Regions from separate parts of the Homo sapiens genome. Here regions 2 and 3 are each linked to region 1. The links come from fine-mapping of genetic effects on plasma protein levels. Region 1 holds a variant in brackets. A gene starts in each other region. All regions are shown on their reverse strands.

Region 1 (8,184 bases):
AACAGTGCCACTTCTGGTAAAACAAGAAATACTCATCAATAAATACTAAATTAGGCTGGGCACAGTGGCTCATGCTTGTAATCCCAGGACTTTGGGAAGCTGAGGCAGGAGGATCGCTTGAGCCTAGGAGTTCTGGACCAATCTGGATAACACAGGGAGACACTGTCTCTACAAAAAAAAAAATAATAATAAAATGAAATAAAAAAAAAAAATAAAATAAAATAAAAATTAGCGGGGTGTGGTGGCACACACCTGTGGTCCTAGCTACTTGGGAGGCTGAAGTGGGAAGATCACTGGGGTCTGGGAGGTTGAGGCTGCAGCAAGCCATGATTGCACCACTGCATTCCAGCCTGGGTGATAGAACGAGGAGACCCTGTCTCAAACAAACAAACAAACAAACAGAAAAACTAAATTATTGCTACTTTTACATATATTTTGTTTATATGATATTTCATAATTTTAAATAGCATGTTCTTCAAGACCTAAGGTTTTTTAATAGAACTAGAAGTACTATGAAAAACAATTTTTTAGAAGGAAGTTTAACAGTGTAACAATATATGTTTTATATATGATGCATGTTTACTTTCAGTCATTCATATCCTCAGAGGACTCTTGTAAACTTCAAGGAAGTTTTGACTATATCTGGAATACAAAGGGAAAAATGGAAAAACAAATATATTTTAGAAAATAATCTAGTTAACAGACATATCCTGAGTCTCTACCTAATGTATAATCAGCAATAAATTAAGTCTTTGGATTTTCTGCAAGTTCTCCCAAGTCTTTCAAGTTATACTGCTATTTGTGAGGGGTTTTTTTTTCCCTAGAAATATCTGTAAATTCTATGTTTAATTAGTTTCTTTACTGCTTTATATATATTTCTGCTAACAGATAATTTGATCTTGTTAAAGGACTTTTTTCACAGCCTTAAAATAGGTTTGTTATATGTGATCTCAAGGACAGTATAATAGACAATTTTCTCATTGTATAGATGTAAAACTTATTTTTCTTTAGATAGTTTATTGGAAAAAATAGCATCTGAGCCCTGGATTTTTTTAAAGCCAGCCTAACATTTACTTGTCTCAGGACTATAATCATTACATTAATTTTCTAATTCATAGCATGTGGATAAATGTGATGTGGAATTTTCCAGTGTTCCTTTCTTTTAAGTTTAATGATCGAGCATTTGAGTGTCTCAGTGAGAGGGAATTAAACATTTAACTATTTATTTTCATTTAAAAAATCTTTTTCTACTAGATCACAAGATTTCTGTTGTGAAGGATGTGGCTCTGCCATGAAGGATGTCCTGTTGCCTTTAAAATCTGGAAGCGATTCAAGCCAAGCTGACCAAGAAGCCAAAGAACTGGCTAGGCAAATAAGCTTTAAGGTACTATAAATTCTTAAATAAATGCTAATCTTGCAACCCTTTTGTTTACTGCTGGATTCTGCATAGAAAGGAAAGCGATGCAGTTCTATTACAATATGACATTTGCCAATGTTTTTCTTTTTTCATATTTTTATATTTTTAATTTCTGTGGTTACATAGTAGGTGTATATATGTATAGGGTACATGAAATGTTTTAATACTGGCATGGAATGTTTTTCTTATTACAAAATTCCTAACTACATTCATGAAAGCTTTATAGAATAGTGAGGGAGTGAAACTTGAACTCTGGTATACAATGCCAGGGTTCAAATCCCAGCTCTGTTGCTTATTAGTAGTATGATGTCAGACATATTAATTAACCACTTTGTGCCTTTTTATTATCTATAAATAATAATGGTACCTAAATCATAGGATTGCTGTGAGGATTGAATTAATATATGTAATACATGTGTTGCATTCAGAACTGTCCCTGGTGCTTAATAAATTCTAGCTATTATTACAGAATATATAGATAAGCAACAAGAAGAAAATGATGGCCGGGCGCGGTGGCTCACGCCTGTAATCCCAGCACTTTGGGAGGCCAAGGCGGGCGGATCACCTGAAGTCAGGAGTTCGAGACCAGCCTCAACATGGAGAAACCCCGTCTCTACTAAAAATACAAAATTAGCCAAGCATGGTGGTACATGCCTGTAATCCCAGCTACTCGGGAGGCTGAGGCAGGAGAATTGCTTGAACCTGGGAGGCAGAGGTTGCGGTGAGCCGAGATCGCGCCATTGCACTCCAGCCTGGGCAACAAGAGCGAAACTCCATCTCAAAAAAAAAAAAAAGAAAAAAGAAAAAGAAAATGACATTCATAATCTCACCGCCAAGAAATAGCTACTGTTAATATTTTGGCATCCCTCCTATATATCCCTTTTTTCTGTATATGTTTTACCCGAACATAGGATTATATAATATTTTAATACTTTGAGTATTAAATATTTAATTATTGAAGGTATTAGCTGGGCGCAGTGGCTCACGCCTGTAATCCCAGCACTTTGGGAGGCCGAGACAGGCAGATCACGAGGTCAGGAGATTGAGACCATCCAGGCTAACACGGTGAAACCCTGTCTCTACTAAAAATACAAAAAATTAGCTCGGCATGGTGGTGTGTGCCTGTAATCCCAGCTACTTGGGAGGCTGAGTCAGGAGAATCGCTTGAACCTGGAAGGTGGAGGTTGCAGTGAGCCAAGATTGTGCCTCTGCACTCCAGCCTGGGTGACAGAGTGAGACTCCATCTCAAAAAAATATAAATAAATAAATACATACATACATACAGACGTAAAGTATTAAGTATTTAATCCTTCTGGAATTTAATTAGCTTCACAAACAGAAATGTCAACCTGCATTAAGCAGCATGCTCTCTTCCTCTTCCCTCTCCACTTCTCTATGGACTGTCTGTCTTTCCAGGTCCAGTTCCCTTCTCTTTTATTGTAGTGCCTGGAGGAGGAGTTGCTCAGAACATGTTTACTTTCTTCCTTCTGAGGATTCCTATTACACTTAAAATTGCTTCTGAAAAATCTCAGGACCAAATGTGTTTTGTACATGAGAATTTTTCAGACTTAAGAAAAGATCTTACATATACCATATATTAACTAACCTGCCGTGCGATCTGGGGCAGCACCTCATAATCAAATCCATTAGGATTTCTTCAGCAAATCTGGGAATATTACATTAATGTGGGATTAATGTTTACACTAATGTGGGATAAAGACTATTCATAGGTTCACATCAGCTCATATCAGGCTTTGCCTAAAAATTACCAAAAAAACCTTGAGTTTTGAGAGCTTTTTAGCATTGTGGATTGTGAACCATGGGTGTTAGTTTTGTCCCTCATCAAGTAACGGCTTCTTGAGAACAGGTGTTGTGTATGCTTCTTCCTATGATACCTAGTACAGTGTTGGACACAAGAGTGCTCAGTGATTAACTGCCTGATAATAGATATTAAACTAGCAATTAAAATAAATCCAACAGAGAGGATTTAGCAGGTTGTAGATTGTGTATGTTTCCTGTTGTTTCCTGTTGTCACACTGCTCTTGGGTCTATCTTGTTTATAGGCAGAAGTCAATTCATCTGGAAAGACTATCTCTGAGTCAGACTTAAACCACTCTTTTTCACTAACTGATTTACAAGATGATATACCTACAACATTCCAGGGTGCTACGGCCAGTACATCGGTATGGCTCTTATCTTTTAATATATATGTATGTCTCTATCATTATCACTGTTTGCAATAGGAGGAGAAGATCCTGGATCAAATATCTGAAAAATTTGGTTCTCTTAACAACTGGATTCTAACTCATCAGTCCCGCTAATGAATTATTATGTTGAGCAAGTTGTTCATGCTTTCTGGCCTCAGTTTTCTTTTTTTGTTAAATGGGGCTGGATTAAATAATTTTTGTCTTGTCCCTCCAGAATTCTGTGATTCTCTGAAAAGTTAATTTTAATATAGTGTTAGACTGAATAAAACAAAATATCCATATGTTAGCCACTTTCTAAATAGACACTATTTTTGGCAGGATTGTTCAGCTGCATTAAGGTACTGACTTAATAAAGTCGTAGAGCCAAAAATTTACTTAGACTTGCTCTGTCCAACACAGTAGCCACCAGCCACATGCAGGTGTCTACATTTAAATTTAATCAAAATCAAGTAGAATTTAAAATTCAGTTCCTCAGTCACACCACATTTCAAGTGCTCCATAGCCACATGTGGCTAATGGGTACCATATTGGACAGTGTAGACATAAACATTACTATCATCACAAAATTCTGTTGGACAATGCTACCTCGTATATACTAAGTGTCCAATAAATAATTGTTGAATAAAAGAATGAATGCTATGAGTGTTGTTAGTGGTGCCCTGACCTGTTGTCTAAGAAATTGTTTGGCCTAGGTGATCAGAGAGAGTGATTTAAAAAATATGACTGGATTGGTGCCAAAAAATAAGGATTATGGGAAAAAAATGATTTTCCTTCCTATATATAAAAGATTAACTGTCTTTGGAAGTCTTTTTGGTAACAGATTGTTTGGTTAAGTAGTCACATTTTTTTTGTTGTTGTTTCTCCAGTTTATTGAAGACTTTAAAGGGTGAGGGAAAATTGAAATAGAAGTTGGGCAAATATAGATTTGCCCTTTACCCAGCAATAACGTACGTAAAGTGGGAGTGAATAGTCTTGAGTGAGTCTCTCCTATTCAGAGAGTGAGCTGGGCAGAGAAAAGTTGGTTGAAGAAGAACAGGGTGGTAGTCTAGGGGGACTGAAGATGGAGGTCCAAGAAAAAAGTGTGTAGCGATGAGTTTAAATCATTTTTGTGTGATCCCAATGTAATTTTATGAATTGCAGGGGAAAACAATGAATTAATTTTAAGGTCAATATGTTTTAGTTCAAGATATTGAAAAAGCTTTCTAATTACTTTTTATTTCATAGTTTTTTTTCTAATAGAAGCATTCTATTACAAAAAGGAAGGTGGTAATCTTTTTTCACCTTTTAGGACAGCCTCCTAATGTTTGTGATGTATTTAAATCTTTTGTGTATTTTCAATCTATGTTAAGTCCCCTTGTTACATATTCCAGTTATACTTATTCCAGTTGTAATTTACTTTGTAATTATTTATTGTCTATCTCTCTTCCCAGAATGTAAGTTCTGTGAGGGTCAGGGGTCTCTTTCCGCTTCTCCACTGTATCCCCAGTGCCTGGCTTAGTGCCTTCTATATAGTAGATTGCCAATGTTTGTTTGTTGATTGAATGAATGAATCTTAGGATTGGTACTTTAAAAAATGCTAAGAATACAATTAAATAAATCAAGAAGTTTAAGTAAATTAGAGTGTACAAATAATGATGTTATTATAGTAGTATTTCTTGTTTTGATTTAGTACATAAAACTTAGAATTCTTATTCATAGATACAGGTCATTAATTGAGACTATTTTTAGTGAAAATACCAACAAGCAATAAATTGTCTAAAATTGCAAGTTAAGTTTTTAATTATATTTACATATAAACTATCTCAGAGTATGATTATATAATTTGACCACTATGAAAGTAACTGAAACCTGGTTTGGCTAAGGGTGGTTATTTTACATTAAGTATAATATAAATTAATTGAGATGTTATACATCAAATCCCAGATAAGCTATGATTTTTTTGTTGTTGTTAGCCTGAAGGAGAGGCAAGAGATTGCCACAACTCTAAATACCTCAGATAACATCAGGCCATCTGTTGCTTTTTAATGCAGATATTTTAGCATCAAAAAGCAATGGGAAATGTAGAAATGGGAAAAACACTGAAGGCAGTTTTGTTCTTGCAGTCTGTCAGATTTTCTCCTTTTCCCAGGGTAGGGATCGAGGTTCTGAATAAGCCATTTCATTTTATAATAAAAAGCAAAACTCCCTCACACATGCTGGTTATTCTAGAAAAATTTATATATATATCACTAGGGACTTAACTAAGAATGTGATTTTTTATCTTTTTAAGGGAGAGTCTCACTCTGTTGCTCAGGTTGGAGTGCAGGCATGTGATCATAGCTCACCGAAGCCTCAACCTCCTGAGCTCAAGTGATCCTCTTGCCTTAACCTCCCAAGTAGCTAGGACCACAGGTGGGCATGACCACACCTGGCTAAGTTTTAAAATTTTTCTGTAGAGATAGTGTCTCACTATGTTGGCCAGACTGGTCTCAGATGCCTGGGCTCAAGCAGTCCTCCTGCCTCAACCTCCCAAAGTGCTGTATGATTGTTTTAAATAGGAAAAAATTTAGAATTTTATAATATCAAGGCACTTAATTTTTAGTTAGTGATATACCATCCAAAAGGCATCTGAGGCTGGGCACGTTGGTTCATGCCTATAATCCCAGCACTTTGGGAGGCCAAGGCAGGAGGATCGCTTGATCCCAGGAGTTCAAGACCAGCCTGGGCAATGTAACAAGATCCCATCTCTAAAAAAATAATGATTAAAAAAATAGAGACAAAAGGCATCTGAAACATAGGAACCTAATTAAAACATTATATGTATATACATATTTTCATTAAGCGTATGTGTTAAAATATCATCTAGACCAATGTTTTAAGGGATTGTTTTTCTAAATATATTAATAAAACTATTAAAAGGCCAAAAAGCTGTCCTAACTTATGACTTTTTTTTGAACCTAAATTTAGATGCCCCTCAAGGGATGTATTATTAGTAACAATCATTCTTGGTAGTGTTGCCCTTAGTCATATGTTGTCCTCTGAGATTGTGTATTCTTGAATAGATAACAAGTGTATTTACAAATCTTCTTTGCCAGTTTCAAACAAAGTTTCTTAAAATTTCCTAGTACGGA[C/G]TCCAGAATTCCTCAGCAGCATCCTTTCATCAACCTACCCAACCTGTAGCTAAGAATACCTCCATGAGCCCTCGACAGCGCCGGGCCCAGCAGCAGAGTCAGAGAAGGTTGTCTACTTCACCAGATGTAATCCAGGGCCACCAGCCAAGAGACAACCACACTGATCATGGTGGGTCAGCTGTACTGATTGTCATCCTGACTTTGGCATTGGCAGCTCTTATATTCCGACGAATATATCTGGCAAACGAATACATATTTGACTTTGAGTTATAATATGGTTTTGTGACTTATGAGCTGTGACTCAACTGCTTCATTAAACATTCTGCATTGGGTATAATCTAAGAATTGTTTACAAAAAGATTATTTTGTATTTACCCTTCATTCCTTTTTTTGATCCTTGTAAGTTTAGTATAAATATATCTAGACATTCAGACTGTGTCTAGCAGTTACGTCCTGCTTAAAGGGACTAGAAGTCAAAGTTCCTTGTCTCACTATTTGATCTGCTTTGCAGGGAAATAACTTGTTTTTTCTCATGTTTCATCTTCTTTTTATGTAAATTTGTAATACTTTCCTATATTGCCCTTTGAAATTTTTGGATAAAAGATGATGTTTTAAGTTCCAATGAGTATTACTAGTTACTCAATACCACTTATTGAGTACTCTGTTTCTACGTATGTAGAATGTATAGGGATAGAAGAGTTGAAAAGGGAAAGCAAAACTCCTCAAGTAGCTTCCTTAAAATGTCATTCATAGGAGATGTACTGGAATTGCTCATTCTGTGACTTTATTTGTGTCCTAAACATTCTTCAGTGAAAATAATTTTATTTCAGTCAAACATTTATGAGGAAATGAGATCACATCTTTGTCACTGGATGCTACTTGAAGAGGGAGTACTTTGTAACCACTTTGATATGCTGTTATCACCACCCCCTGCCCTCTGCTGCCATAATCACACAAATTTAAAAAGAAAGAAAACAGTCTTCCATAGATTTTTAAGGAAGAAAGGGCCCAAGCCAGGAGATCGCTTGGTTTTCTTCCAGAAGTTAAATGGGGGGATCTGAAGATTTGAATGTTTGGTCTGCTTTGAAATGTATGTCTTTTGGGATGTATTATATGCCTAGCTTTATAATCAGTATAAATTTTAATTATTCCAGGAATATGCATAATATTGAAATATTTCATGTCCTATTTTAATAGAAAACCTCAGGGCCCAAGTAACAGTGATAGAAGTTAGAAAAACCTTTACTTAGAATTGTCCACCTAGTCAGAGCCCAAGAAAGAATTTTCAGTGGAAAAATCAATATATAACTTAGTGCTAGCTAGCGCCACAGACTCTAGTAGATAATATTATCATCATAATGGCTGGTGAAACCATATAATCACAGAAAAACATTGCCTTCAGCATGTTCAGTTCGCAGCACTGAGGGCACTCTTGAGGGTGTTGTTAATG
Region 2 (8,184 bases), not on the chromosome of region 1:
CCCTCCTCTCCTCACTCTGCTGTCCTCTCTTACCTGGGCTTTCTTCTCCTCTCCTGAGCACACATTTTCTCCCTTTCCTTTCTCTCCCCGCTTCTTTCTGACAGCCACCTCTCAGTCACACACACACTGCACTCATACTATTTCATACTCATGTTCTCCTGGCTCCAAGCCTCCCAAAACTGCTGCCGGCAGGTGCCCGCGGGGGACATCTCCAGGCTTAGACCCCATTTCCCGCAGCACAGCGCTGCCCTCCCTTCTCCCTTTATCCTTCATCCCACCGCACACCTGGAGGTGTACTAACTGCGGCCACACACCTGCAGGCTGACACCTGCCTGGGATCTGCTCGGCTTTGTCCCTGCGATGAATAGGGGGCCCTGTTACCACTCCCTCTGCTGCTTCCTTCAACGCACACTCCAGCACCCGCGGCTGGAGCGCGAGAGGCAGGTCCCCACGCTGGGAGCAAGCGTGAGTCCAGCGTGGAGTCCCGTCCCACCAGCCCGAACGATGCCGGCGCCGGCTCCCCTTCACACCCCCAGGGACTGCAAGCTCGCTGTCTATCACGCCTAGAGGGAACCAGAAAGCGTTTCGGGTACCGGGCGCTGGAGGCCACCCGGGGCGCCCCCTTCGGTCCGGATCCGCCGCTGGGCCCAGCCCGCGTGCCCGGCGCCCCCTCAGCGAGGAGCGGCCGGCGAGTGGCGGGCACTCACCGGCGGCAGAGCCCGGGCCAGCAGCGGCGGCGGCTGGAGCAGCAGCAGCAGCATCGGGGGCAGGAGGGCGCGCGCGGCCGCGCTGCGGAGCCAGGCGGCCGGAGCCATCCGCCCCGGGGCTGCTGGGCTTGCTGGGCCGCTCCGGGCCGCCGCCCCTTATAGCTTCCGCCCCACCCCCGGCCCGCCTCGGCCCCGCCCCCCGCCGCCTTTTGTTCTGAACTCTCCTAGCAGCCGCGGCCCGGGTGGGGGAGGTGAACGGGGAGGGTACGGCCCAGCGGGGTCGAGGGCCGGAGACAGGGTCCTGCCCCGGGGCTGGCAAAGTCCCTATCTGGTGCTGGGTGACCCTGGCCAACCCGTGCCGCTCTGGGTCTCAGTTTCTCCTCTGGGTGGTGGCCGTCCAAAGTCTTAGACTTGGCTAGAGTCTGAGAGGAGTCAGGTTTCATGGGTCCCATCCGTACCCCCACCTTTGGAAGGCGCATCCCACTGGGTCTCCTTGGTGGCCTGACCTCTGACCTCTGACAGGTGGTCCTACCCACAAGCAAGTTCCCCCACCCCTCAGAGCCTCAACGGATCCTTCTAGAAGATGACACAATAGCCCCTGTGAGGAAAGGGATATTATTTTATTTTTTATTATTATTATTTTTTGAGACACAGTCTCACTCTGTCTCCCAGGCAGGAGTGCAGTGGTGTGATCTCCACTCACTGCAACCTCCGCCTCCCAGGTTCAAACGATTCTGCTACCTCAGCCTCCCAAGTAGCTGGGACCACAGACGTGCGCCACCATGCCTGGCTAATTTTTGTATTTTTAGTAGAGATGGGGTTTCACCATGTTGGCCAGGCTGGTCTCGAACTCCTGACCTCAAGTGATCTGCCCACCTTGGCCTCCCAAAGTGCTGGGATTACATGGGGAAGCCATTGCACCTGGCCAGGAAAGGGATATTAAAATGTGTCCCAGGGGAAAGTGAGGCATATGGCAGGGACTGGCCAGTTCTTCAGCTTGGGATAGACCGAAGTTTACAGATAGGGAAACTGAGGCTCCAAGAGGGAGGGTCCAGGCTTTTCCACACCAGCAGACAAGTGGAGGGGTCAGGAGGTCCTCTAGCTGGTCAGCTGTGGGAAGGATGCTGTCAGAAGGCTGTGGGAGGTGTCTGAGTGGAGTACTGGGCCCCCAGGGTGTCCCCTCGTCAGTGCCCAACAAGCCCCTGGGGACCCCTCCAGGCTAGCCACCTCAGACTTGAAAGAAAGGAGGCGAGAGGCCGGGCGCAGTGGCTCATGCCTGTAATCCCAGCACTTTGGGAGGCCGAGGCAGGTGGATCACGAGGTCAGGAGTTGGAGAGCAGCCTGACCAACATGGTGAAACCCTGTCTCTACTAAAAATACAAAAATTAGCCAGGTGTGGTGGCACACACCTGTAAGCCCAGCTACTCAGGAGGCTGAAGCAGGAGAATCACTTGAACCCGGGAGGCGGAGGTTGCAGTGAGCCGAGATTGTTCCATTGCACTCCAGCCTGGGTGACAGAGCGAGACTCCATCTCAAAAAAAAGAAGGAAAGGAGGTGAGACTCAAAGGAGGGGTTGTGTCCACATTCTGGAAGGGATCCTTCAGTCTCATCCCTGATTTTCGGGGTTACCCAGTACTGCTGTACACCCCCTGAAATGATGAAGGGCCTCACCACCTCACCAGGCGACCTGTTCCATCATGGGTGGCCCTGCAGAGCCACGATCCAGGCAGTGGCTCGCATCCTGGCAGGCAGGGCTCTGAGCTGCTCAAAGGTGAGGCTGTGGTCAGGAAGCCTGGGCCAAGAAAGGGAAGCGGGTGGGGAAATGTTTCACAGCTTATTCAAGAAGACTCCACAGAGACTCCTAGAGGGCGAGGAGAAGTAAGACAGCAGTAATTTTTACAACCTACACTGTTCGTAATCTTTTCTTTTTTTTTTTTTTTTTTTTGAGACGGAGTCTCTCTCTGTCGCCCAGGCTGGAGTGCAGTGACGCGATCTCGGCTCACTGCAAGCTCCGCCTCCCAGGTTCATGCCATTCTCCTGCCTCAGTCTCCCGAGTAGCTGGGACTACAGGCGCCCGCCACCATGCCCAGCTAATTTTTTATATTTTTAGTAGAGATGGGGTTTCACCGTGTTGGCCAGGCTGGTCTTGAACTCCTGACCTCAGGTGATCCACCCGCCTCGGCCTCCCAAAGTGCTGGGATTACAGGCGTGAGCCACCGCGCCTGAAAGGCAATCTTTTCTTTAAAGTCACTCACTTTTATTTACTTTTATTATTTTGAGACAGGGTCTTGCTCAATGGTGTGATCTTGGCTCACTGCAACCTCCGCCTTCCAGGCTCAAACGATCCTCCTGCCTCAGCCTCCCAAGTAGCTGGGACTACCGGTGTGCATCACTATGCCCTGCTAATTTTTGTATTTTTTGTAGAGACAGGGTTTCACCATGTTGGCCAGGCTGGTCTCGAACTCCTGGACTCAAGCAATCTGCCTGCCTGGGACTCACAAAGTTCTGGGATATAGACATGAGCCACTATTCCCCGCTAAAGTGACTCATTTTTAAAAAGTAGGCATTTCAGGCCAGGCGTGGTGGCTCATGCCTGTAATCCCAGCACTTTGGGAGGCTGAGGCAGGCGGATCACAAGAGACCATCCTGGCCAACATGGTGAAACCCTGTCTCTACTAAAAATACAAAAAAAAATTAGCTGGGCATGGTGGCACGTGCCTGTAGTCCCAGCTACTTGGGAAGCTGAAGCAGGAGAATCACTTGAACCCGGGAGGTGGAGGTTGCAGTAAGCTGAGATCACACCACCGCACTCCAGCCTGGCAACAGAGTGAGACTCTGTTTAAAAAAACAAAAACAAAAACAAAAAAACAACAAAAAACAAACAATTAGCGGGGCATGGTGGCATGTGCCTGTGGTCCCAGATACTCGGGAGGCTGAGGCAAGAGAATCGCTTGAACCCAGGAGGCAGAAGTTGCAGTGAGTGGAGATCATACCACTGCACTCCAGCCTGAGCGACAGAGCAAGACTCCGTTTCAAAAAAAAAAAAAAAAAAAAGTTGGCATTTCAATGCCTGCTTCAGTGTCATCCTTTCAGCCTCATTTTCATTTGTGTAACCCACTTAAGTGGTCTTGGGTGCCTCCGAGGTGCAAGGCCATGCTTTGTGGAACCTGCAGTCCATCAGCCATGGGAGCTGAAGTAACAACTCTCTGCAGTTTAGGCCCGGGGACCACCATGAGAAGTGTTCAGTTTGTTTGGTGTGGCAAACAGGAACCAGGTGGCATGGACTGCATGAACAAGGGAGTAGCGGCTGGACCAGGCCTGGTGAGTCTGCCAGGAAAGAATGGCCCACCCTTGGTGTGCTCACCTCACTGGGAGGCCACCCTCAAGGTGGGTGGTCACCCCCCTTCAGAGAGGAGAAACTGAAGACAGGGCGGGGAAGGGCCCTGTTCACAGGCTGGCTGAAAGGACTGCAGTGTGAGAGAACACAGGGCTGCACCTGACTTCCATGGAGAGCATGCATGGCTGGGGACAGCTGTGCACACACAGAATTGAGCATGCCAGGCAGGGCCAAACGCCCCAGCCACCACTCCCCTTGCCCCTTGACCTGCTCCTTCCTTATGGAGGGGCCTCCTCTCTTACTTGGTGACCCACACCCCCACTTCTGGGTGCTTTTGCTCTTGGTTGCACCCTGCCGACAATCCCGGTGTCAGGAGTCCTCTGCAGGCACAGCAGTGATGAGGGACAGTCCCTACCTTCCCCCACCTAGGAGTAATAATATGACCACTGCAAAGTCACCCAGAAAAGACCATAAAAACCTCAAGCTCAGCCGGGCGCGATGGCTCATGCTTGTAATCCCAGCACTTTGGGAGGCTGAGGTAGGAGGATCATGAGCTCAGGAGTTGGAGACCAGTTTGGCCAACATGGTGAAACCCCGTCTCTACTAAAAATACAAAAATTAGCCAGGTGTGGTGGCACGAGCCTGTAGTCCCAGCTACTCAGGAGGCTGAGGCAGGAGAATTGCTTGAATCCGGGAGGTGGAGGTTGCAGTGAGCCGAGATCGCCACTGCACTCCAACCTGGGCGACAGAGCAAGGCTCCGTGTCAAAAAAAAAAAAGTAAAAAGTAAAATTAAAACCTCAAGTTCTCGAAGAGCAGGAAAGCATTCTAAATCCGCGCTCCAGCTCACCTGGCCTGGAACGAAGCTGCTAAAATTGCGAGGCCGCAGGCTTCAAACTTGCGCTAGATTTGACCGAGCCGGGCAAATGCTCCTAGGCCTTTGGGATAGACACGCTGCTCGGATGTCGCGTAAAGGCCGTTAGTGTCGGGGGTTGCACTCGCGGGGCCAGGGACTAGGTGGGGGCGGTCGGGCCGGCCCGGGGAATCCGGTGGGGTTCAGGGCCGCGCGGGGGGCCTCATATCCCCCGCGGGCACTGCGTAAGGCTGCCAGCATTGGCAGCGCATTTTGGCCAACAGTCGAAGACGGGTTGGGACGCCCCCTCGTGGGAGTTCTGGGGATGGGTTGCTCCAGGCCTTCCCCAGGGCCGCGCTTCACTTCCCTAGGCCACCGGAGACTCCCAGGCCACGCGGTGGTCAGCAGACCCTGTCTGGAGGGAGGGGACAGACAGCCGAGTCCGGGAGGGGGCAGAGAGCGGAGTCCAGCCTGGAGCCTCGCGTCCCCTTCCCAGCTGGCCCCATCCCGTCGCCTCCCCGTCTCCTCTCCCCTCCAGGGCTCGCAACAACCCCCAACTCCGCTCCCTGCCCTCTGCGGTGGTCCTAACAGAAGGCACTGTCGCCCTCCTTAAGCCCTCGGCGCTTTGCGACACTGGCCCCTGTCCCCAGAACCCGCACAGCCTGCCAGGCGCAGGGAGGGAGCAGGGTCCCATTTCCAGCCGAGACCCGGAGCTGCTGGAAGGGAGATGTCCGGAGGACGGGAGAAGGGGGATAGGGTTGGGGGCAGTGCCGCCTCCCGCTGGGGGCGTGTTCCTGAGGCCCCGCCCGGGGCCCCGCCTTTTTTGCGCCGGCTGTGACAAGCGCTGCGGCATTTGTCCCCGCGACAGCACCGCTGCCGCCGTCTCTAAGGTCGCCCGGGTCCCACCGCCGCCACCATGCCTCGGGGAAGCCGCAGCGCGGCCTCCCGGCCAGCCAGGTGTGAGGGGGACAAGGGCCCTGTGGGGAGGGGGTTAGGGAAGTGTGGGCACTCCCCTAAGGGCGTCCGCAGAGTGACCTTGGCTGCTGCTGCGCCATCTTGGCGGGGGGAGGGGTGGGGGTGCAGCACCCACGTGTGGAGACGTGGGTCGTCCATCTCTCCGGGGGTCGTTTCCAGGAGCTGCAGCCCTCCAGCCTGGGGTCTGGCCAGGATTAACCCTGCTTCCTCCCACCCCCGCAGCCGCCCAGCCGCGCCCTCTGCCCACCCGCCCGCGCACCCACCGCCCTCGGCAGCCGCCCCAGCCCCCGCCCCTTCGGGCCAGCCGGGGCTCATGGCTCAGATGGCGACCACGGCCGCAGGGGTAGCCGTGGGCTCGGCTGTGGGACACGTCATGGGCAGCGCCCTGACCGGAGCCTTCAGCGGGGGGAGCTCGGAGCCCTCCCAGCCTGCTGTCCAGCAGGTGAGCAGCGAGTCCAAGAGAAACTGAGGCAGGATTATCTCGAGGCCACACAGGGAGCTGCCCAAGTGTCCAGTGAGGAGTGTCCGCGTGTATTCACCATTGCTTCAGCCCAGGACTCTGCCCGGGAAGGGTCCTAGTCCACTGGTCTTGAGTTCACTGTCACTTAGAGGCAGGCTTCCCGGCCTCTCCCTTGAGGCCAGGGTCCCTAAGCTCCCAGGGAGAGACACCAACCAGCCCTTTAAAGATGGGAAACCCAGGCCCTGAGGGCTCAGAGACTCGCCCAAGGTCACCTCACCCTAGCAGAGGGGAGGGATGTTGGATTTCCTGAGCCCCTGTTCTCCCCACACCCAGGTCTGGGCACTGTGGCCGCTGGGCGCAAGGGCGAAGGGGAGCCACTTCCCTGATGACCTTTCCCCTGCTAGGAACCCCACCGCCGTAAGCCAAATGTGGCTTTGTGGCTAGGTCAGGGGTCATGAGGATTAGTGTAGCTGAGCCAGGAAGGTGCTAGAACTTGTGGGGGTGGGGCTCATACTCTGAGAGTACAGGCAGAGTACTGGGCTTTCCTAGAGCCTTCTCCTCCCTCTCCTGCACCCGCCCAAAGTGCCCATTAGAAGGCAGCAGAGGCCAGGCGCAGTGGCTCATGCCTGTAATCCCAGCACTTTGGGAGGCCAAGGCGGGTGGATCATGAGTTCAGGAGTTCGATACCAGCCTGGCCAACATAGTGAAACCCCCTCTCTACTAAAAATACAAAAAATTTGTTGGGCATGGTGGCGGGCGCCTGTAGCCCCAGCTACTTGGGAGGCCAAGGCAGGACAACCACTTGAACCCGGGAGGCGGAGGTTGCAGTGAGCCGAGACTGCGCCGCTGCACTCCACTCTAGGTGACAGAGTGAGACTCTGTCTCAAAAAAAAAAAAAAAAAAAGGCAGCAGAAACATGCTGTCTGTAGCCGCCTCTGCTGCTGGATCACTCAGCCTGCCTAGGACCCTTGGGACACCCAGGCTGGGGATGTGGGGAGGGGCAGGTGGCCCCAGGTTTGAAACGCACCTCCAGGTGCCAACTCCAAGCTGATCCTGCAGCCTCTTGCACTGTACCCCCAGGCCCCCACCCCCGCTGCCCCCCAGCCCCTGCAGATGGGGCCCTGCGCCTACGAGATCAGGCAGTTCCTGGACTGTTCCACCACTCAGAGTGACCTGTCCCTGTGTGAGGGCTTCAGCGAGGCCCTGAAGCAGTGCAAGTACTACCATGGTGAGTGAGTGGACCCCGACTCAGGCGGGGAGGGGGAGAGGCCAACCCTCCTCTTGCACCTGCAGGCTGACCACCAGCCTGTGCTGCCCCTCCCTTCCCAGGTCTGAGCTCCCTGCCCTGAAGAGGTCGGTGCAGACTCGGGGGCCAGTCCTGCACCCACCTCTACCCCTCGCCGACAGCCAGACCACAACACCAGATTGTACCCAGATAGCTGGGATTGGAAGTGAGGAGGTTTCTCACCCCACAGATAACCCAAGACACAAATGTGCAATTAAAAGTTTATTTTAGACCACAGCCTGTTGTGTGCCTCTCTCGATGGCCTGTCTTCAGGGAGCTCCCTGGCTGATGAGGTGGGGTCAGGATGGATGTCTCACTACAGTGTGCAATCCATCCCCTTAATCAGGGCCCTGGGTGGGGAGGAGGAGCCCTGTTGCAATCTGCACTGTGGGTAGCACAGGACAGATTCCTTGGGCAGTCCAGAGTGAGGTGGAGAGGCATTAGTCGGTGATCCCAAGGGCATCTGACTCTGAGGGTGGAATCCCAGGATGAACCCATGGTCTCCCCCTTATCAGGGATACCTGCCACCTCTACCCTTCTTGTCTCTACCTCTGCATCCCATTCTCTGC
Region 3 (8,184 bases), not on the chromosome of region 1:
GAGAATAAGCAATTAAAAAAAAGAAAAAGCATATATATATATATGGTAGCACAAAAATGTCCTTAGTATCCAAGCTCCAGGACTTTGCCTCTTAGTGTGTAGTTTGTGAACTCCCTCTATCAGCTTCACAGAGGACAGTAGTATAACGCTGTCCTCAAGTCTACTGAAACCAAAGCCCAGGGATGTGGCCTAGAAATCTGGATGTTTAAATAGCACTTTGATGAATTTGATAATGTGTTACTTTGCAATTTTTCTGAGAGTGAGACTCCAAAGATAGTCAAGGGTTTGGGAAGAGTAAATTTAAGCCAATTCAGTAAATTAGGTGATAAACAAAGAAGCTTGCTGTTTTTCTCTCTTTTTTTATGTTTTAAAACAATGAGTTTCTCCTTTTTTGCTCAAGCCCTGAACAATTTAGTTCAGAATTTGTTTTCTTACTTTGATTCTGCTGGCTTTGCCAATTCCATGAAAATCCACTTGGCACCACATTTCCTTAGAAGCTCTTGCTTTTTCTTGATTTTCTTTCTGTTCTTAGAGTCTAATATTCTAGTGTCTCACCAAATTGTTGTTGTCTCTTTCCAAAACTCCTTTAACCAAACTATCTGTATCTTCATGTAAAAGGCACCACAGACCTCCCATCACTCACTCTCCCTTAACCCCAAAATATCTATGTGTTATCCCTTACAGATGTCACTTCCTGCAAGGCCTTCCATATTAGTTGCTACAACATCACTAAAGAATTTTATTACCTGTGGCTCTGGACCTACTTCTAATATCTCTGGAGATATCCACCTTCAAACACCTGCCACATCCAGCTATGAGGGTCTAGTACCTGGGCTCCAGAGACATGTTCAGGTTAGTTCTGATTATAAGAACATTTCTCTTTTTTGCCAGAATTGTTGGAAAGTTATCTCTATTCAACAGTCTGTGTAGGATTTCAGAAGATTGAATATACATATAAATATATATACATACACACATGTATATATACACACACACATATATGTATATGTACTTTGTCCATGTCGTATTTGGTTATTCCAATTCTGGGAAAATAAATTAAGAAAATAATTAAAAGATGCACTCAAATATCGATATACAAAATGCCTATTGTAATAATACATAAAAAAAGTCAGAAGCTAACCTCGGTATCTGTATGATTTGGAGCAAGTTACTTAAACTCTTTGTGGCTATATTTTCTCAAATGTAAAATAAGGTTAATAATAGTGCTTATTTTAAAGGTAGTCATGAGTTTTAAATGAATTCATGTATTCAAAGTGGATAGAATAGTGCTTTCAAATAATATTTATTACCTAAAATTATTATTATCATCATATAAGTAACAAGAGATACAATGAACCATAATATGCCCATATGATAATATATCACACAGTAATCAAAATATTTTAATAGGAAATTAATATCATAAGATAAAAAGCAAGAAGAATGATGATAAGCCATTTGACTACCACTATATTTATCTATGTAACTATAACCACATACACATATTTTAAAAAATTGATTGGAATATACAAAATGGTCTTTTCATTCTCTGTGATATGTAAAATGTAGAAATATACTTTTCTGGGCTGGATGCAGTAGCTCACACCTATAATCCCAGCACTTTGGGAGGCCGAGGTTGGTGGAGCACCTGAGGTCAGGAATTCGAGACCAGCCTGGCCAACATAGTGAAATCCTGTGTCTACTAAAAATACAAAAATTAGCCAGATTTGGTGGTGGGTGCCTGTAATCCCAGCTACTCAGGAGGCTGAGGCAGGAAAATTGCTTGAACCCAGGAGGCAGAGGTTGCAGTGAGCCGAGATCCTGCCACTGCACTCCAGCCTGGGCGACAGAGTGAGACTCCATCTCAGGAAAAAAAAAAAAAAATCTATCTATCTATCTATCTATCTATCTATCTATCTATCTATCTATCTATCTATACTTATATATACTTTTCTTTGTTATCCATATTCATTTCAGAGAATGCAGTGCTATTGTAAAAAAAATGAATAAAATTAATATAAGTTTAGAGCACTTTTTTGGCATCAGTATGCCTAAGGAAAACTAATGTATAATACAGGATTAATGTTTTTCACACCATCTCAAATCTTACTGAATGCTGCTATCTAGAAAACAGTGGTAACTGAGTTACAATGGGACCTTAAAAGCAAAAAACCACTGTGACTGGCTAACTGAAAGTGATCATAGAGCCAAAACCATAATGATTGTCCTGCCCAAGCTTCAGCATATATGGTTGCAAAATGTGCGCAGTGTTAATGCCGTGTCAAGTGTCTTGTGGTATTTCATCAGTGTCGCTTACAAGGCATACTCAACATTTAACAGCAGGATCATTAACCATCCATGCTGTGATGTAATGGAATAGTGCTTCCCTACTAACCCTGAAACAAGCTCACTGTGTGTGACCTACATCCTTCCGCTGGATGAGTGTGAGAAAATGATGACACCACAGAAGCAAAGCAGCTGCTGTAAGTTGAGCCACAAGGAAGAAACTCTCAAGACAGGAAGAATAAATGCTTTAGAGGTGCACTAAAATAATGAATGAACTAATGTGGCATAGCTGTGAAATCATGCGAGGAAAAGAACTACAGGGACAGTAACAGAAGGTGGTTCTTTGAAGTAAAGACATTGAGAAGAAGAAAAATTGCCAACTTGTGTAATCAGTTGATGTTGCTAGTTAGCCAGTTTAAACATGCGTTAAAGATAAAGATCTGCTTGAAACCAATTATTTTATTGTTTGGCTTCCTGTTTAAAGATGAAAATGAAATATGTGTATATATGTGACATATTTTACCTAGCAGTGAGTAGATGCAGGAAGCATGTAAAATGCTTTGCTGAATTCACTAACGTCACAAAATATTCCTTAATAATTGCCGCGTTTGATAGGCTGACCTTATGCTAGCACAGGAAACAATGCAGTGGACTTGGGTTGGAGAGAAGAATTTTGACATTTGGATTTTTAAAAATCATGTATATTGAACCCATGAACTCTCATGTGGAACATCAGATTTACTATATTTTAAACAGAAATGCCATCACTATAAAAACCATTGCAAATTTGTCAATATACTTCCATTTAAAAAGCCTTTTCCTGCTTTTATTGATTTATTGATTAATTTTTTTTTGAGACAGGATCTCACTCTGTCACCCACGATGAAGTGCAGTGGCACAATCGTGGCTTGCAGCCTCGACCTCCTAGGCTCAGGTGATACTCTTACCTCAGCTACCTCCCAAGTAACTGGGAATGTAGGCTTGCACCACCATGTCTGACCCATTTTCTTGCAGAAATTGAGTTTTGCTATGTTGTCCAGACTTGTCTTGAACTCCCAGACTGAAGCAATCCGCCCACTTAGGCCTCCTAAAATGTTGGGATTACAGTCATGAACCACTGTGCTCCACCTCCTTTTTCTCCTTTTCAGATAGATTATGTATTCTGTACCTTTTGTGTAACTAACTTGTTATTACATAAACTATATTCTAAATACATTATAAATTATTGTGATCATGATATTTATCATTGAATTAACACTGCCTAAGTAGCAATTTTCACAGAAAAGATAATTTTAAAAGACCAAAATGGTTATTCTCTTGGAAGCAGTTGACATAAAATAACAGAATAATACAGATTAAAATTCTGTTTTCCAACAGCTACTAGTGGTAAGAAATATAGTAAGCTTCTGATTTGTAGAAACCTTAGCTTTCTCATCTGATGAGGTGGTTAATAATATTAACTCTCATATTTGCTGAAATAATATAAAATATTTAATATAAATTGTCAATTATAATGACTGGCATAAGGTAGAATTACAACAAATGCTAATTATATTTGCTTGTTTGAAAATTTAACACTCTATTAAAAGGCAAAAAAGTGCTCACCTGCAAATATTAATACATGCCTTCTGTTTAGTCCATAGAAAGCCCACAAGTAAGAGATTCAAAAGTGAAAGCTATCACTTACAGAAGATTAAGAATATATTGCATTGAGAAGATAGGGATTAAGGAGTTTATCAAAGGTTTTTTAAAAAATTATTTTCCTGAACATCATTTCAAGAAAGATAAGCGCCAAAGACATAAATATATTCTCCAGAGCATGTGCACTGCAAGTTGACAAATGTGTCTCTTTTATAGAGTTTGGTGAAGGTTATTCATTTTATTTTTCCTGTCTTGACCAGAAAATTGTGGCTTCTCATCATGTATGACTGCCTGCAGGGTCTTCTGAATAGGAAATTACCAATGCTGAAATTTGTATGACTTAAATAAGTGTTGAAGTGTGGGGGTTGAAAGGAGATACATATCAGAGACATCCATTCAGTTAATAGAACTAAGTTTTTGATTTGCATAGCTTATATCTAGAGCATTGTGTTTCTTATTTTCTATATTACTATCTTCTCTAACTATATAATTAGCACAGATTGAAGCTATAATGGATTTCAATAATAGCACTACTTTAGAATGATGTATACGTCTTTAAATCTTAAGACAAGCATAGGAAATATGTATATTCTTAAAAAAAGGAAAATTTTTTTAAAGTTTAGAGTTAAAAGAAACATGCATTTTCTGTTACATTTCAGATTATTTTAGTTAAAGAATCTTCTATGCTTTTTTTCTTCATTCTTAGAAGACTACCTGCAATTGTAAAGCATGAATCCTGTAATACTTCTGTAAATGAATCACTATTGCATTTATACCATTAGCCTCTGAACAGATTTCAAGTTGCTGCTGCCAACTCTCGCGAGCTTTGTCAGTAACAGTTGATTGTTACATTCAGTAACACTGAATGTCAGTGCAGTCCAATTTACAGGCTGGAGCAGCAGCTGCATCCTGCATTTCCCCGAAGTATTACATGATTTTCACTCCTTGCAAACTTTGCCATCTTTGTTGCAGAGAATCGGGTAAGTTGCTCTGAATTTACACCTTCGTGTAGAGATCCAAGTTACTGTAAAGCTCATTCTGTGGGATGAGAGTGATCTCTTCATGTGTTTGTTGTGTCCCTTTGGTGCTCTGTGGGGAACAGTTACTGAAGCTTGCAAATGGGACAGAGGAAGTGAGCCAGCAGGCACATGCATCAAATCTTCCTATTATTCAGGGAACGCAGACTTTGTTTATTTAACTGCTGAGAAAATAATGAATTTATTCAACTCTGTATAAAGGACCATAGCACGTGTGGAATCACTGTGATATATATTCTTAGTGAGTTTCCTAAGAAAAAACATTTCATACTGGCTTACCCTTAAATGCATTGTTTATTGAATCTCTCTGTAAAAGTAATCTTTGATTAGTCTTCCTTTTTTTTTCTTTTTAAATGGGATAAAGTTAGTAGTTAACTTACTTTTTCCTGAACAAAATACTTTTCTCAATCAACATTTTGTCACCTAAAACTTTAACAGTAACAACTGGCAAATGAGAGGTCTGTTTATTTTATGTAAATAAAAACAAAACCTGTTTTCTAATTTGATTTACAGTGATTTATGAGCGTGTCCCCTTTGCCCTTTGTGTTCACTTTTTATATGTTTGTTTAAATTGTAGCAAAATATTTTACATTTGCTATTATTTTACTATTATAGAAATAGTAAGCAAATGTACTTTCTGCTCATCCTATAATCTTGTAAAACTATTATTTTGATAACATCAGTTCCACTTTAACCAGGGAATTAAATATTAAGGATTATAAAATCTATGAATGACTAAAAGTAAACTGAAATGTGATTTCATTGTTTATGATTTCTATTTATTATATATTTTTATTTTATGAGTATGTCTTCTACATTTTTATGAATATATTTCATGATAATAAACTCAATTAGGAGCTCCTGTCACTAGTCTGTGTAATGCCTTCCTTAATATAAACTATCTCATAGTTACAATAAATACAATGACAGTTTACTTATATAAGTAGTTACTTTGTTTAAGGATAAGCGTGAGCTTTTAAAGTGTGACTTTAACATTTGAATAAAAATCTTCAGAATTTTCTCTGGATATAAAATAAAGTAGTCTTTTGGATGCCAAATAAATTTCTAATTGGGTTATCAAAGTTCTGTTTTGTTCTCCTAATTTTTTGTTGTTGTTGTTTGTTTGTATTGTCCTAGTTTTTTAATTGTAAAAATATGTTTGGGATGTATTCCATATTTCATTTTTATAAAACATAAGCTACTAATAGCTAAACAAGTCACATCTTATCTATAAATTTGGTTCCTTCTTCGAGTCATTTCTTGATAAGTATAATATATATTTACATTGAATATTATCTTCATTTCGATGGTTTCTTGCCAGCATCTGCTCATTCTTACCAAAATTAGACGGTCCCAGATGTTAAGAGAATTGTAATTGAATAGATAGCAACCTAAGAGGAGATTTAATTTTCAGAGAAGACTCAAGAAATCTCTCTAATAAATGTTCAAATTATTCACACAATGAAGTTTGCAAATGTTCTTCCTAATTGAGGACAGATAAAACATCTTAAGTTTCTTATATCTAATGTAGTGTCTTCTATATGTATACATGCCTAAAGCATAGCTGAAGAATCCCTGAAAGACAGTGATGTAGTCTATTTATAATCAGACTTCCTCAATTCCCCACTTCACTTAGTCTGCAACAAAACAAGCTTTTTAAGTTTGATATAAAGACGTCGTTGTTCCAATTTCTTCAAATACATTTAAGAGAGCTTGTTCTAGATCATATTAATATTATCTAGATGGCTCTTTCTCTACCATTTTAAGAGGGTTTATTTCCAAGTAGAAATAAATATTTATTTAATTGTAACTTTTTAAAAGATAGGGAAATTATACACAGGGAAAATATTTTGAATATTTGCTTGAACATCTTTTAAAAATTCTTGGCTTGTCCCTTATTTTGAAAATCTGGTTGATATTCAAGTATCCCAAAAAATAGCTCTTTATACAAATTATTTTATCACACTCACATCTTATAGTATAACATTTAGTATTTTTTGTTAAAATCAGCTAGGGAATATTAATAGTACTTTCAAAATTGAATTAAAAATACAAAAAAAGATTTGTCACCTTTTTTATTTGAAAGTTATTGTTATAACAGTTTAGCATTTTCAAAAATTGCCAGTAAATTTTCTTAATTCCAAACAAAAACTCAGTTCCTCAAAAACTCAAATTCCTCAAAAACTCAATTCCTCAAAAACTAGAATGGTCTGAATTCCAAACAAAAACTCCTGTCTTTATTTCCAATATTAAATACTATTTTGATAAGCAAATTGATCTAAATTCAGATACACAGCTGTATTTGTGAAAATGTGCCCCATTTTTATGATAATGTTTATGCTACTATGTTCTCTCAGAATCATGTGAGACAGTATCCAATTGCACCAGAATTTATTAAAAGAAAAACGATCAAACCTGCACGTTGTGCACATGTACCCTAAAACTTAAAGTATAATAATAATAAAATTAAAAAAAAGAAAAACGATAATGTTTTGTTGAATATCCTAATCATTAATAAAAATTTTGAGATATAGACTCAATATTTTTATTCTATTTTCATTTATTTCTCTTTCGATTGCTCAATTACATGATAAACATATCAAAATTTTTAAAGTCTTTTAATGGCAAAACTACAGAGTAGCATGTTAGAATAGATAATACCAGATTATAAAAAGGGCAAAGTGATGCTTATTTAAAAAATAAAGTACTGCAATTAAATATAAAAACATTAGCCTACAATACACTAACAGTATATGAACATCTGCATATTTTTATATTAAAGTACACATTAAATAATATGTCATATGACACTCTGCAACAATACATATGAGTTAGCATTATATTGTCATTTTTGCAATGAATGCATGCTTACAAGAATTGCTTTGATTGTTACCAATTACATTATTTGCAAGTTGATAACTCAGATATCATTATCGAAAAATTAAAGATTTTAATTCATACCATATTATTATATAACAAGACCTACTCAGCATAAAATATAAATATCAACATATAATAAATTTTGTATTAAATCAAGTTAAGTGACATGGGAAGATATTACAACCATTTAGATGTTATAGCAACTGTTTAACATAAACAATGAAACATCACATTTCATAATTACACAAAACACAAATACAGTTTTGTAGCAACTATAGTACTTGCTTTGCAATAATATAAACTGTTTGTAGAACAAGTTTGAAAACTATCAGAGACCAAA

Which allele goes with the higher level. Positions count from the first base shown, and alleles are read on the strand shown. Strength reflects both the effect of a copy and how common the allele is.
With allele G in place of C in region 1, the plasma level of the protein whose gene starts at base 5,714 in region 2 is lower (weak association).
With allele G in place of C in region 1, the plasma level of the protein whose gene starts at base 4,798 in region 3 is lower (weak association).

What was found. PIP is the chance, under the fine-mapping model, that this variant and not a neighbour inherited with it causes the effect. The UK Biobank Pharma Proteomics Project read protein levels with antibody pairs (Olink). The fine-mapping took linkage between variants from a reference panel, not from the people measured, so its PIPs are less certain.
Region 2: it holds the start of CHCHD10, and the variant in region 1 is fine-mapped to the plasma level of the CHCHD10 protein (UK Biobank, PIP above 0.99).
Region 3: BCHE starts here. The variant in region 1 is fine-mapped to the plasma level of the BCHE protein (UK Biobank, PIP above 0.99).

The regions. Positions count from the first base shown.
Region 1 is chr6:89,328,502-89,336,685 of GRCh38, reverse strand. UBE2J1 (ubiquitin conjugating enzyme E2 J1) reads left to right here. Exons shown (of 8, transcript NM_016021.3): 6 at 1,255-1,384; 7 at 3,481-3,600; 8 at 6,729-8,184. The coding sequence ends at 7,007. Among named protein-coding and RNA genes, the nearest start is that of GABRR2, 17 kb to the right of the region's middle. The variant C/G (reference allele first, on the strand shown) is at 6,735.
Region 2 is chr22:23,765,502-23,773,685 of GRCh38, reverse strand. CHCHD10 (coiled-coil-helix-coiled-coil-helix domain containing 10) reads left to right here and starts at 5,714. Exons shown (of 4, transcript NM_213720.3): 1 at 5,714-5,852; 2 at 6,093-6,312; 3 at 7,411-7,558; 4 at 7,660-7,852. The coding sequence starts at 5,812. The coding sequence ends at 7,679. It overlaps C22orf15 (chromosome 22 open reading frame 15), which reads right to left. Exons shown (of 6, transcript NM_182520.3): 6 at 7,823-7,965. The coding sequence ends at 7,954. MMP11 (matrix metallopeptidase 11) reads right to left here and starts at 837. Exons shown (of 8, transcript NM_005940.5): 1 at 708-837. The coding sequence starts at 815. LOC107985577 (a long non-coding RNA gene) reads right to left here and starts at 5,460. Exons shown (of 3, transcript XR_007068022.1): 1 at 4,893-5,460; 2 at 2,379-2,499; 3 at 1,309-1,817. RefSeq lists enhancers at 6,577-7,376, 7,377-8,176.
Region 3 is chr3:165,834,037-165,842,220 of GRCh38, reverse strand. It overlaps BCHE (butyrylcholinesterase), which reads left to right and starts at 4,798. Exons shown (of 4, transcript NM_000055.4): 1 at 4,798-4,907. RefSeq lists an enhancer at 4,686-4,980.